2 separate regions of the Homo sapiens genome follow, and region 2 is linked to region 1. The links come from fine-mapping of genetic effects on gene expression. Tissue or cell type: CD4 T cells. Region 1 holds a variant in brackets; the other region holds the start of a gene. All regions are shown on one strand. Distances are between the middles of the regions.

Region 1 (6,505 bases):
AATGCACAAAAGAACCTCAGCCCTTTCTCAGAAGCACAACAAACACACACATAAACAACAACAATAGAAGAGTTCCAATTAGGATTTTCAGAACACAAATACCCATTTAAATGTACCTAACATTTCTCTGCTAGAAGCCACTTTAAATTATTGTTCTTTTTAAAAGGAAAATCCAATATAGTTGAAAGCTTGTGCTTTATAAATATGTGATGCTTCCCTGCATTATCTGAAAGAGGGAGAAAAACCATGTCTTGCTTTTTGGGATTTAACCTGTTTTAGCTGATCACAAAATCTTTATTAATTGCATTTATTAGCTATATAGCACTCCAAGGTCTTTGAAATTTTTTGGTTGCAAAAATCTGATGAAAAAATTAAATTGTATATTATCTTGTAATTTTGCAAAAAGCATGTGATTGAGTTGTGCCCTGCCAATGACTTCTAGTAGCAGAGCAAGCAGTGGTCCTTCCTCACCATTGAGAGTGGCGTCGGGGAGTTTCTTGCAGTTACAACAAAGCCCAAATTATGGGGACGGTGAGGGGAGTCTTTGGCCACAGAATAGGTTTGGGTGTGAGCTGCACTTTCTGCCTTGCTAAGTGTCAGTTTTTCTGGATTTTACATTTGTCTTCCTATAGCTTCAGCTTCCCTTCTTTCCTTTACTTCCTACTGTGGCCTTCATTCTCTTCACTTGGTGGTGATGAGTAATTTTACACAAGGCCATTTTCTCTGGACATAGACTGAGGCAGTGATGGGATGGTGAAGTACCACGGATAGTAATCAGGGGGACCACAGATAATGGCAGGGAGCCAGGGTGTCTACCCTGGCTCTGCACTGACTGGCTTGGTGATTTGTAGAGTTCTTAGGGACTGACTCATGTGCCTGCAAAATTCATAGGCTGAAACCCTAATCCTCAATGTGACTGTATTTGGAGGGCGGGCCTTGAAGGAGATAATTAAGGTTAAATGAGGTCATAAGGGTGGGGCCCTAATCCAGTATAACTGGTGTCATTTTAAGAAGGGGAAGAGACATCAGGCATAAGCATGCACAGAGAAAAGGCCACATGTGAGGACACAGATAGGAGGCGGCCATCTGCAAGCCAAGGATAGAGGCCTCAGGAGAAACCAGCCTTGCTTGGCACCTTGATCTTGGACTTCCAGCCTCCAGAACTGTGAGAAAATAAATTTCTGTTGTTCAAGCCACCCTGTGTTATTTTCTTACGGCAGCAATAGCAATTGCTAAATACAAATATAGGAGAAAAATGAAGTCTCTCTAGGATTCCATTTCCCATCTTGAAGATGGGGCTAGAAATCGTTTCTACAATAGAGAGTTATATGAGAATAAACAACATAATGTAATCAATATAGTGCCTCAATTCATGCCTTCTCATAGATGGAGAATTTATGCCCACAAGCACAGGCTAGTGTCCATTTTCTAATAACTCAGCTTTTTGCTGAGTACTTAGCATTAAAACAAAACAACACAAATCATTTATACATGTTAAGTTTCAAGTTTCCCACTTCATTTTGCCTGGCTGATGGCTCTTAGAAGACACAAACTTATGGCACAGATGACTTCTTCTGGTTCTAACTTGTGTTATCTCTTTTTCAAAAGTTAGTTAAATTCTCCATATATTTTAGTGTTGTTCTATTGGCTAGAAAGACAAAACAAGGGGAATCTGGCAAATGTAAAAAAAAAAAAAAAATGCTCAGCTGACCCAGCACGTGGAATTGCATTTACTAATTTAGGCTATTTTATATAGTGGAATAACATATTTGCAAAATGATGATAGTACCTTGAGTTTACCTAGCCTTTTTTTGGCCAAGGAACTGAAGGTGTTTTCAGTCCATAACCTGATTTCATTTCTAATTTACACTGATCTAAGAGGTATCACGTATGCTTCTCTTCATGTGATAGCTAGGCAAATGAAGACACAAACATTTCTTCCTCATATACACAAGAGATGTGGATGGTAAAAGACTGAAATGGAGGGTCTCCTGGCTTCCTGAGTAGAATTCTACCAAATTGTTCCTGAAGTTATTAACCACATTTGCCCCAATATCTGTTGACAGATAGAACAGCTGTGGGTAAACTGAACTTATCTGAAAGAAATGTGTATTATACATTACACAAGTGCATTACAACTGCAACTGTCCAAGAGCCTGGTGAGTTTCTCATCCCTTCAACTAGACCATCAGTGACTTGGGAGCTCTATTCTACACAAGGCCACTTTCCTCCCTTTAGAGGAAAAGTGTTCTATTAGGTAGGGTAGGACGCTGGGCCAAAAGGGATTAAAATTGTGTTCCTGTTACCTATTGCTAACTAGCAAACCACACCAAAACTTGACGGCTTAAACAACCATTATTTGATTATATCTGTGATTTTGTTCAAGCAGGGCTCAGCTGAGTGATTCTTCTATTCCATGTAGCGTCGACTCTGGTCCCTTGCTGTTAGTCAGTCAATGGCTGCTCTGATCTGGAGGATCCAATATGGCTTCACTCACCTTCCTGGCACCTTGGCAAGGATGCCTGGAAGACTGAGCTCCCCACTGGGCCTGTCTGCCTCTCCATGGAGCCTTGGAGCCATTCCATGTGGTTTCTCCATTAGGGTACTCATATTTCTTACAGGGAAGCCCAGGGTTCCAAGAGACCAAGGCCAAAACTGTTAGTCATATTAAGCACTAGGTTTGGAAATGGCATAATATCACTCCCATATTCAAAATCACTCCCATACTTGATTGGTCCAAGCAGTTATAGGCAACTCACCTTTAAAAGTGGTGGACGCAGGTTGTGGAATAGACACATCTGTCCATGGAAGAAGGATCAAAGAATTTGTGGTCATTTTTAATCTACCACATATGGTGTATACCTCTGTGGTTTGCTGAGGTTTTTGAAATCTTTTTTTTTTTTAATACACCTAAGACTTCATTTTAAGTGCATCTTAGTTTTGCCAGAATTTGAAGCACTTTGGGAATGGCTTGCTCCGTTTTTACATTATACAAACATACACACACATATATATGTTTTTCCACTAAGAAATGCCTCTATTCACAGGGGCATTGTTTAGTTACTTCTATCCTCATTCTGTCCTTTCAGTTCAATAAATTATCTGTTTGGTTTTATTTTCTTCTTGCAAGGAAGGATAAAACTTGAGGACTGTTTGTAAAAATGAATACAATTTGGTCTCTGTCATGGAGGAACTGAGTCTAGGGGGGTGGACCCTCATAGATATGGATAACTGGAGAACAAAAGTTTAAATAATAAACTTGAGAAAGGCATAGACACATGAGTGGAGGCTTGAGTCAGCAGAGGAAATCCGGGAACGTTGCAGAGAGGAAGTGGCACTGGGGCTAAGCCTTGAAGGAGACAGTGATCTCTACAGATGGGAGGGGGTGGAGTGGGGCTGGCATCCCGGAGGAGTGGCAGTGAGAGTCCATGCACCAGAGCAGATGGCATGC[T/A]CCACTCACAATGACTGGGTGCCTGGAACGTGGGGGCTGCGGTCGTTCAAGGGGCAGGGGTGGGGTGGTCATGGGGGAGTTGAGGCTGAACAGATGGGTTGGGGACACGTGGACTTTCTCTGAATGCAGATTTGTTCTGAATGTTATCACCATAGGAGGATTTGTGACAGGGAGTGCCATGATCAAATTTCTGATTTTTGAATGTTGTTTGTAATAGCAGGTTTGGGATGGTTTGAAGGAGTAGTAGACAAAAGGCTGAAAACCCTGTCGGAGAGCAGTAGTCCAGGAGAGATGAAACTGAGTGATAGAATGGAAAAGAAAGGTTTTGAGAGGTGTGTTGGGGAAGGGAGGTTGGAGAAATAACTTTCTGATTGCCAAACATGTGTTCAGACATTCTGCTCATCCTTTATCTAATTTAATTTTCACCAAAATCCATTTTTCATATGCAGTAACTGAGGCTTTGAGATGTTTAAAAACCTCCTAGCTAGAAGTGAATAGGATTGAGATTCAGAGCCAAGCATGTTTGGCTACAAACTGTCTATGATTTCCCATGAAACCTTGCCTTACCCACTGAAAATAACTCCAGGCGGGAGGATTGCTGGAACCCAGGAGTTCGAGACTGCAGTGAGCTATGATGGTGCCACTGTATTCCAGTCTGGGTGGCAGAGTGAGACCCTGTCTCTAAAAACAAAGACAGAAAGAAAGAAAAAAAAGAAAATAGCTACAGATTTCTTACTTGTGAGACTGGGTGGATGCTTGTGTCAGTAACAAAATTAAGAACTCAGTATTTTGCTTAAGGCTTTTAAAAAAGTTTTGCTCCTGAGTTGTTTGTGTGCACGTGTGTGTGTGTGTGTGTGTGTGTGTGTGTGATATACTTCCAATGTGAACAGAGTTTTATGAACACTTAAAAGTTTTTAGCTAGTGTCTATCAATTCTATCAACAGGAATGTAACAGATCAAAAAGTACTGTAAAACATACAATTCATGTCAATTTTACTGTCCTTATTTTTTTGTGCATAAATTATTCTTGGCCTCATAACTGATTTTATTGCACATTACAATCTTGTAAACAAAGAGCCTATTGTACCACATCTGGAACAGACCGAGACATCAAGGGAGGGCTGGGAAGCAATGGGGAGGAAAAGTAAAAATGAGTCAGAGAAACAATGTAGCAGTTCATGTGGGAACTTCCTCTGAATAGAGGGTATCCCTCCCCCACCTCAAAATAAGTCACCTTTCTCATTTTAAGAGCAAAAAGGCAAGAGAGACAGCAACCTATGTCTCTTAAGTTCTATTTCTGTCTAAACCCTGGAGGCCAGGGTGTGGGTGGCTCCAGGGCTCTGCTTTTGGGTCCCCAGGTGAATAGCCCGATGCAGACCAGTAGCCACATGGCCTTTGTGCCCAGGACTCATGGGCAGCGTGAATCTCACTTGAAAATTCAATCCTTGGTGCAGAGCACCATGAGATATTGAAAATAATGGTGTTTGGCATTGGTACTGCGTCCAGTTGGTTTCATTTTCACAGGCTTTCAGAGCCCCTGAGAAGTCCTGGTGATGATACGGGAAGGATAAGAAAGGGGGAATCTGGCTTCTCCCTTTGGTTGGTGAGGCTCTGTGTTTACAACACAGCCTGGCGTATACGAGGTGCTCAATAAATATTTACTAAATGCATGATTGCTTGAATGCCATGTGCCAGCTTCTGTTAAGTGCTTGCCAGCTGATATTTCACTTAATCTTCATAAAAAATGATGAAACCTAGTTCCCCATTACACAGATGAAGAAAACAAGGTCTAGAGAAATAATTTGCCCAAGGACGTGCGCATTGTATGTAATAGAGCTCGGATTCAAAAAACCTTTGCCCTTTTGAGCATACTGCGAATATTTTGAGTGAACTACAAATGTTCTTTATCACAATATTGTTTGGGTATAAATAAACACACTTCACATATGCAAAATAGAAGTTCTCCCAGTTTTTGAAAATGTGAGAACTCTTAAGAACTCCCTGGACCGAGCACATAATTAATAGGTGTTCAGTAAATGTTGAATAAATGAACGATAGCTTATTCTCTCTATTCTAATACTTCGTAGTGGAGAAAAACGTGGAGGACTTGAAGGCTTTTAGCTTTTAATAAAAATGCTCTTTTCAAGACAGGTTTCTTAATACAGGCAGGTTGACAAAAATGCCAAGCCAGTCAGTGATAGCTGGTTCATGCCCTCTATCCTATGCCAGTTTGGAAATATTTGGTGGAAACACAGTATTGGAAATATTGTGGTAACTTTTCCCATCTGGTTAAAAGTCTTCACTTCCCTCTTGTCACCACGAAGGAACGTGAGCTTGGAGATGAGGTTGTGAAATTTCCAGTTTTGCAGGTATGGTCAGATAAGTGGCCAAACTTTAGCTTCTTTCCCATCATTCTGTCCACTTAACTCTTTGGTATTATTTATAAAATTAACCTTTTTTTTTTTCTGGCCACTCTTCACCCCGTCTTCCTTCAGTACATTCCTTCTTCAGTATCCGGTTTCAGGAAGATTTTCCCTTTAATACTTCCCAACTTTTTTTTAAATCCCATTTCAAAGCCCCATCTTTTTGAAAAATAACCAGGTAGCTCTCATCCTTCCCTTCTTTGGATTTACTTTGGTTGTACTTGCTGACCCACTACGGAAATGACCATGGGACTGTAACAACTCGAACAAAACCTCGGCTTCGTCTTCTCCTTCTAAGCAGCTCCTGTACACTGAAGGAGCTGAGATGAGGTGGTGAAAGGTGGAGGGAGAGAGGAAAGGAGAGAGAGACTGAGGAGAGTGGGTTATCAAGACCAAAAGAAGATTATCATTTCCCAAGTGGAACCTGCCTTGAAATAGACTCATCTCTTATGCTCTTGCCCTGAATTGAAATCTTAGTCCGTTTGTGTTTTGCATGGATGGGGAGGTGTGGGACATTCTATATTTGGTAGTTTTCTGGCAGATAGTGTTTCCTGTTTCACTGTGTTTTAAAATAAAACTAAATATACAAATGTATTCTCCAGGGTATTGGGCTGTTTTAGGCTGTGCACTC
Region 2 (8,363 bases), 420 kb before region 1:
AGGACAAATTATTCAAGTATTTTCTTTGAAATACACACGAAAAACACATATATAGAGAAATGTTTGAAAACAGAATATTACCTCTAAACGGGGAAAATTTCACTCAATGCTCACTATAGAAAACACTCTTCTAGCAGGGCACTTTTTTTTTTTTAAGAAAAAATATGTCCACGTTAAGTTTTCTAGAGTTACCACCTTTATGTTATCCTACCTTATTCTTGGAGTATGTCAAGGAATTTTCTGAAATGACAAAAAAAAAAAAAAGATGTTATCACTTAAATGCTGTTTGTCAATTACCCTATAATAAACAACTAGTAAAAATATCAAACCAGTAACAAACTAATAGTTCCAGGAGATATAATTTCTATATAACAGGAAGCATTTTAAAATTTAATCTTACAGTATAAACATATGATTTCAAAAAACTCAACCAAACACAAAATACCTATTCAAAGAGGTGACACCAACCTCATTACCTGGGGTCATATGTTTCTGTTTAGACCCCAAAGTGTCTACTAACCACTGCAAATTCACCCATAATTGTGTCACAGTAGCTCAGGTCCCAGAAACTCATCTTAAGACTACAATGAGAGTGCTCTCTACTGCATTTTCATTTGTTAGCCTGAGCCTTTAGATTTGAGGTGATAGCAACCAAATCGTACAACAAATAGGCAAGGACTTCAGATTATCTGGTCAACCCTTCTGTCACCAGACAAATAGCTTCTCCATTCCTGGTTTCTATATCAAGAATCACAGGAACATTTTTATTGGTCTATTTAAAAAATTTTCTGGCACATTTACGAATAATCTTTTCTCAGCAATTTGAAAAATTTAGGAAAAATGCTTTTGCCACAAACAAATGCCTTTATATATATTCTTCCCCCACACTATAAAACACCAACCCATACTGCCTGAAGAGATTTCTTATCAAGAGGTACTTTGTTCTTTTGAGTAGTCAAAAGGGCAAATTAAAAGAGCAGCAATAATTTAAGTCAACCATGAAGTTGTAAGAAAACTAGGAAAGTAATTAAACTTAATCAACCAGCTGCTATGAGGCAGCGTCTGTCTGTCATTCTTCCGATGTTGTCTTGGATACAGGTTCCATTTGCCAATACTCCACTCTCTTAACCTGACAGGGGTTGATTTCTCAGTCGAAGCACACTTGATCAACACAAAAAAAAAATCTGGCTAATTCACAATTTTCCGTTTAACACAGAGAGCATGAGCTAGAGCACTTCTCTGCTCTTCCTTACCCTGGCTGAAAAGAAGCGACTTCAAAACACAGTTCTTACTCATCTGTGTTCAAATTTTAGAGTAAAATTTTCAATGAAGCACTGAAAACTGATGTATTTTAGAAGGTAACAGAGCAACACTGTTCAACAGAAATATAACACAAGCCAAAATGTGACCCATTTGTGTACTTTAAAATTCTGTATAGCCACATTAAAGTAAAAAGAAACAGATAACATTTTAATATATTTTTAACCCAACATATCCAAAATATTACCATTTCAACATACAAAGAATATAAACAATTACTGGGACTTTTTACATTTTCTTATAAGTCTTTGAAATACAGTTTATATTTTACACTTACAGCACATCTCAATTTAGACTAGCCACATTTCAAATGCTCAATATAATGTGGCTATTGGCTATGGTATTGGACAGTGAGAATGAGTCTAATAATCTTTCCTAGAGACCACTGGATACATAATTACAGGCCTTTCATAAGTAACAGTAAGAAAGTAAAAGACTGATGAAGGATCCTAAGTATAAAAATGGATGTAGACTGAGGCACTCATTCTTCCCACCATGTGAGTGAAAATTTCAAAGGGATTATGTAAGTATAGAAATTTTTCACCAGAAAATAGGTTGCAACTATAATCTAAGGAATAACCGATAAACTTCAGGAGCCAGAGAATTCTTTCCACACATAAGCAATTAAATAACCACTTTTTCTATAAATTCATACAATTTTAGAGCTGAAGGAGTCAAAGCGGGACTTCAGAGCTTATGAAATTCAGTTTAAGTGACTTGTCAGGATACAAAAGAAATACATCTGTCACTGTGAGTCCTGAGAAAAACACTCCGTTAAACTTTTATTAGTACTTTTTCTTTTTGAATAACATTACCTATCCTGTGTGTCCTTTGTGCACCTACATAGGTATCAAATATTCGCTGCAATTCACACTTCCCAGTCATCTGTCGTAATAGCCATTTCATCCAAAATCGAAAAAAGTGCCCATAGAAGAACTCCCACAAAGAAATAAACATTTTTTTTTCCTGGAGGAGGGAAACATACAAGACAAGCTTAATGACCTTAAACTGAATTTTAAAATTTAAAAAGTTTATACAACTGATCAAATCTCAAATTATGTATCTATCATTTCATTGTGTCTGTTTTGACAGTTTAATTAGGCATTTAAAAACAATGGCAGGTGTAATATATACCGCTATTAATTGATGATCAAATGGCCAATTAATCACTTTTTCAAAACTAAAATTCAAACAATGTACTCAAACTATTCAATGGCTTGAAAGAGTAACAGAATGGTTTGCACTTTTTGCTAAATAATTGTATTTCATATCTTAGTTTCCTAACTTCCCATTCTTTGAGAACTGGGGCTCAACAGTTCAAGATCAAGAGGACTCCAACTAATCAACAATTAAAATATATACCAAAACATCAGAGTTGTTTTTATAGAATACACTCTTCTTATCCCATGTGGATAATTCGTTACAACTGTCCCAGTCAGGTGATGCCAGCAAATAAAAACACTACAAACTTAAGTATACAAGTTGAACACTGAGTATATAACACCTTAGCTCATTCTTGATTTTCCATTCAATAGGTCAAGGGCAGAAATACTAACAAGTTTTTGTTTTGCTAAGTACACACTCGATACAACTATATCTTATGCCATAAGAAAATTCTTCAGCTTCTAAATGAAAAAGTCAGGGAGATACTAGTGAGAGGGAGATACTTAAAAACAAAATTGCTCGTCTCCTTCCTGCCTTAAACATTCCCACAGACACGTCACCTCTGGACTAGGGCCTGAGGAGGGACTGTCGAAGTTCGAAGTACCCGCAGGTCAGTGCAGAAAGAGCGCATAGCACAGCTGGGTTGATCATTATCTTGAAAATCAAGCCATCTAGTCCGCGCTCATTAGGACAAAAGCGCAGAACTGCCGAGCAGAGGGGATGCACGCGTAGCGGCGCCTGAGCACCCCAGGGCTCTGGGCGTCTCTGCGCCGACCCCCCTCGCGCGCCGCCCGCGAATGGGAGGGCAGGGCTCGCACAAAGACCCGCCGGCCCAGGCGCCCCCGGGTTCCCGCAGAACCCCGCGGGGCTCGCGAGCCCGCGCGCTCTCAGTGCAGCCGCACCGAGGCATCCGGGGCAAGAGGAAAAGAAACAGCAGCCACCTCACAGGAGCGGAAGAACTAGGGGGAGCAGGAGCTGCCTCGGTTTCCCCACTGCAAACAGCCGGCAACGGAAACGACGGAACACTCCCTTCAAGCACCGCGACCCGGAAGTCAGGGAGCGAGGCCGCGGACCCGCCTTCCCAGGGCCACTGCCCGCCCCGCCCCTCCGGCCTCTTCCGATTGGCCCGCGCTCCACCTATTGCTAACGCTGGAGAGAGGTCGAGCTGAGTGGCCCAGGCGCGAGGGCTCAGATACTAGGGACGCCCAGACGGTTTCCCTGGCAACGGCGGCCAGGAGCCCCGCCCCGCGCCGGAGTAGCGCCTCCTAGCGCTGCGCTGGAGACTTTTCCCTCCTTGAACCTCAGGTCCTTAGCGCGGGTTGACACCTTGTACTATTCCTAGGCTCCAAGCGCGGAAGAAACCCTGTGCTTACGGTAACTTATAGTGCCTTAGTTACAAAAGCGCTTTCATCTGCATTGAATCTTAATTCTGTGAAGTAATTATGAATAACTCCACTTTATGCACGAGAAAAGGGAACCGGCTACTTGACTGTGGCCAATACGTGGCAGATGAGGAAAGTCCATGTGTTGAGAAACGAAGTTTGGACTTTATCCTATAATACTATAGGTCTAAAAGTTAATTTATCAAATGTTTATTCCCTAACTGGTTGTTTTTGTTGAAAAAGTAATTTCGTGATTACTTTTTAAAAACCTCAAGCAGTAAGTTTCTTAATTCAACAAGTATTTGTTGATTGTTAGCACAGGCAGTGTTCCAAAAGGCAGTCAAACACGAAACAAACAGCCAAATATTTAATATGTCAGATGCTACTAAATGTTAAGGGTATAGGGGTTGTTAGCTAAGGGGTAATGGGGAGTCTGTGGGGGAAGTCATTGCATACAGTGTGGTCAAGGAAGTCTCATTATTAACGTGGCATTTTGGCCTCATTGAACGAAGTAAGGGAGTTTACTGTGGGAGTATCTGGAGGGAGAGTGATCCAGGCACCAGAATGACAAGTGCAAAGACCTTGAATTGGGAGGGTTTTTGAAATGTTGGAGGAAGAGCAAGAAGGCCGGGGTGGCTGGAGGAGAAAGAGCAAGGGGGAGAGTAGAATATAAATACAAAGGACAACTGATACTGAAAACAAATTTCCCCATCCACCCAAAACTCCTGATACCTCCGTCACCTTGCTCAGAAGCAACCAGTATTACTTTCTTGTTTCTAATTCCAAAAATATTATATGCAAGTGTATATATGTATATTCCTTCCAACTCCTTGAATTGAAGCAAGTGATACATACTTTCCCACATCTCAACCAGCGTTTAAAAAATGGACTAATTGTAGAACACTAGCCATGTGCAGGGTGCATAAGCCGTCATCCCTGTCCCATACCAACAATGAACTTGGTAATGAAGTCTGGATAGACACTACAATAGTAAAATCACAGAATCTTAAATCTTAAAGAGAACTTATAACTATCATCTAATGTAATTTTTAAAATTATAGATTAAAAGATTTAGAAAGGCAAAGTGCACAGCCGATTTGGCAAATTGACCTGTAAACTAACTTCTATTTCAGGAGGATCTCCATTATTACACAAACTTTTACATAGTAGAAGGTGAGATAATTCTATATGTAATCCTTTTGCCTTTTCAAAGTGCTATACTAAGTGTAGGCAGTGCAGTAGAGGAACTCTCTCCTCCTTGTTTCCCTGCTGCCTGTTTGCCCACTTCCATTTATGTCTTTCCCCAAGAGAAGAGAATGCTGATATGTTTTGTCAGAACCAGAGAAATTGATTAAGCTGCATTTATTATAAGCAGGGTCACTGTACATTAAAACTTCTTATGCATACCTTTTGCCTCTTCCCTTTTCCACTAATTCACTTGCATGTAACTGGCAGATACATTAAACAAATCCTGTTTCTCAGGAAAGATTGTCCATCTCTATTTCTTATTCTCTTTGGTTTTCTTCTTTCTTGTGGCTAGCTAAAGGTTAATTATATCCTAAGATTAAGATTCTGGTTTCATGGAGAAAGTGGGACCTTCTCCATCTAGGTCCCTAGGTCTCTCAACCTGTGTGCATCTACGTGGCCTTATCAGATACACCTACATACAAACCAAAGGCAATAGAGGAAGGAAATTTGGTTATATTTTTTAGTAGTACTGAGGAATCTCTGCTTTCTTGGATTCTCAGACTAAACAGCCATGGAACTGTTGATTTTAGAAACTGCTTATTGGAAAGAGTTCTTTGGTATGACTGTTTTTTGTTATTATACTTTAAGTTTTAGGGTACATGTGCACAACGTGCAGGTTTGTTACATATGCATACATGTGCCATGTTGGTGTGCTGCACCCATTAACATGTCATTTAGCATTAGGTATATCTCCTAATGCTATCCCTCCCCCTTCCCCCTTCCTGTCCCCGGTGTGTGATGTTCCCCTTCCTGTGTCCATGTGTTCTCATTGTTCAATTCCCACCTATGAGTGAGAACATGCGGTGTTTGGTTTTTTGTCCTTGCGATAGTTTGCTGAGAATGATGGCTTCCAGCTTCATCCATGTCCCTACAAAGGACATGAACTCATGATTTTTTATGGCTGCATAGTATTCCATGGTGTATATGTGCCACATTTTCTTAATCCAGTCTATCATTGTTGGACATTTGGGTTGGTTCCAAGTCTTTGCTATTGTGAATAATGCCGCAATAAACATACATGTGCATGTGTCTTTATAGCAGCATGATTTATTGTCCTTTGGGTATATACCCAGTAATGGGATGGCTGGGTCAAATGGTATTTCTAGTTCTAGATCCCTGAGGAATCGCTACACTGACCTCCACAATGTTTGAACTAGTTTACAGTCCCATCAACAGTGTAAAAGTGTTCCCAATTTCTCCACATCCTCTCCAGCACCTGTTGTTTCCTGACTTTTTAATGATTGCCATTCTAATTGGTGTGAGATGGTATCTCATTGTGGTTTTGATTTGCATTTCTCTGATGGCCAGTGATGGTGAGCATTTTTTCATGTGTTTTTTGGCTGCATAAATGTCTTCTTTTGAGAAGTGTCTGTTCATGTCCTTCGCCCACTTTTTGATGGGGTTGTTTTTTTCTTGTAAATTTGTTTGAGTTCATTGTAGATTCTGGATATTAGCCCTTTGTCAGATGAGTAGGTTGTGAAAATTTTCTCCCATTTTGTAGGTTGCCTGTTCACTCTGATGGTAGTTTCTTTTGCTGTGCAGAAGCTCTTTAGTTTAATTAGATCCCATTTGTCAATTTTGGCTTTGGTTGCCATTGCTTTTGGTGTTTTAGACATGAAGCCCTTGCCCATGCCTATGTCCTGAATGGTAATGCCTAGGTTTTCTTCTAGGATTTTTATGGTTTTAGGTCTAACGTTTAAGTCTTTAATCCATCTTGACTTGATTTTTTATAAGGTGTAAGGAAGGGATCCAGTTTCGGCTTTCTACATATGTCTAGCCAGTTTTCCCAGCACCATTTATTAAATAGGGAATCCTTTCCCCATTGCTTGTTTTTCTCGGGTTTGTCAAAGATCAGATAGTTGTAGATATGCGGTGTTATTTCTGAGGGCTCTGTTCTGTTCCATTGATCTATATCTCTGTTTTGGTACCAGTACCATGCTGTTTTGGTTACAAGCATTCTTATACACCAACAACAGACAAACAGAGAGCCAAATCATGAGTGAACTCCCACTCACAATTGCTTCAAAGAGAATAAAATACCTAGGAATCCAACTTACAAGGGATGTGAAGGACCTCTTCAAGGAGAACTACAAACCACTGCTCAAGGAAATAAAAGAGGATACAAACAAATGGAAGAACATTCCATGCTCATGGGTAGGAAGAATCAATATCGTGAAAATGGCCATACTGCCCAAGGTAATTTACAGATTCAATGCCATCCCCATCAAGCTACCAATGACTTTCTTCACAGAATTGGAAAAAACTACTTTAAAGTTCATATGGAACCAAAAAAGAGCCCGCATCGCCAAGTCAATCCTAAGCCAAAAGAACAAAGCTGGAGGCATCACACTACCTGACTTCAAACTATACTACAAGGCTACAGTGCCACATTTTCTTAATCTAGTCTATCATTATTGGACATTTGGGTTGGTTCCAAGTCTTTGCCATTGTGAATAATGCCACAATAAACATATGTGTGCATGTGTCTTTATAGCAGCATGATTTATAATCCTTTGGGTATATACCCAGTAATGGGATGGCTGAGTCAAATGGTATTTCTAGTTCTAGATCCCTGAGGAATCGCGACACCGACTTCCACAATGGTTGAACTAGTTTGCAGTCCCACCAACAGTGTAAAAGTATTCCTATTTCTCTACATCCTCTCCAGCACCTGTGGTTTCCTGACTTTTTAATGATCGCCATTCTAACTGGTGTGAGACGGTATCTCATTGTGGTTTTGATTTGCATTTCTCTGATGGCCAGTGATGATGAGCATTTTTTCATGTGTTTTTTGGCTGCATAAATGTCTTCTTTTGAGAAATGTCTGTTCATACCCTTCGCCCACTTTTTGATGGGGTTGTTTGTTTTTTTTCTTGTAAATTTGTTTGAGTTCATTGTAGATTCTGGATATTAGCCCTTTGTCAGATGAGTAGGTTGTGAAAATTTTCTCCCATTCTGTAGGTTGCCTGTTCACTCTGATGGTAGTTTCTTTTGCTGTGCAGAAGCTCTTTAGTTTAATTAGATCCCATTTGTCAATTTTGGTTTTGGTTGCCATTGCTTTTGGTGTTTTAGACATGAAGTCCTTGCCCATGCCTATGTCCTGAATGGTATTGCCTAGGTTTTCTTCTAGGGTTTTTATGGTTTTAGGTCTAACATTTAAGTCTTTAATCCATCGTCAATTAATTTTTGTATGAGGTGTAAGGAAGGGATCCGGTTTCAGCTTTCTACATATGGCTAGCTAGTTTTCCC

The links. PIP is the estimated chance that this variant, and not a neighbour inherited with it, causes the effect.
Region 2: ELMOD2 starts here. The variant in region 1 is fine-mapped to the expression of ELMOD2 in CD4 T cells (BLUEPRINT, PIP 0.95).

What each region holds. Positions count from the first base shown.
Region 1 is chr4:140,097,045-140,103,549 of GRCh38, reverse strand. The region is part of intron 1 of MAML3 (mastermind like transcriptional coactivator 3); the gene reads left to right. Among named protein-coding and RNA genes, the nearest start is that of MAML3-AS1, 28 kb to the left of the region's middle. The variant T/A (reference allele first, on the strand shown) is at 3,452.
Region 2 is chr4:140,519,343-140,527,705 of GRCh38, reverse strand. It overlaps ELMOD2 (ELMO domain containing 2), which reads right to left and starts at 3,538. Exons shown (of 9, transcript NM_153702.4): 1 at 3,426-3,538; 2 at 2,136-2,286; 3 at 212-240. The coding sequence starts at 2,277. RefSeq lists silencers at 3,177-3,296, 3,487-3,836.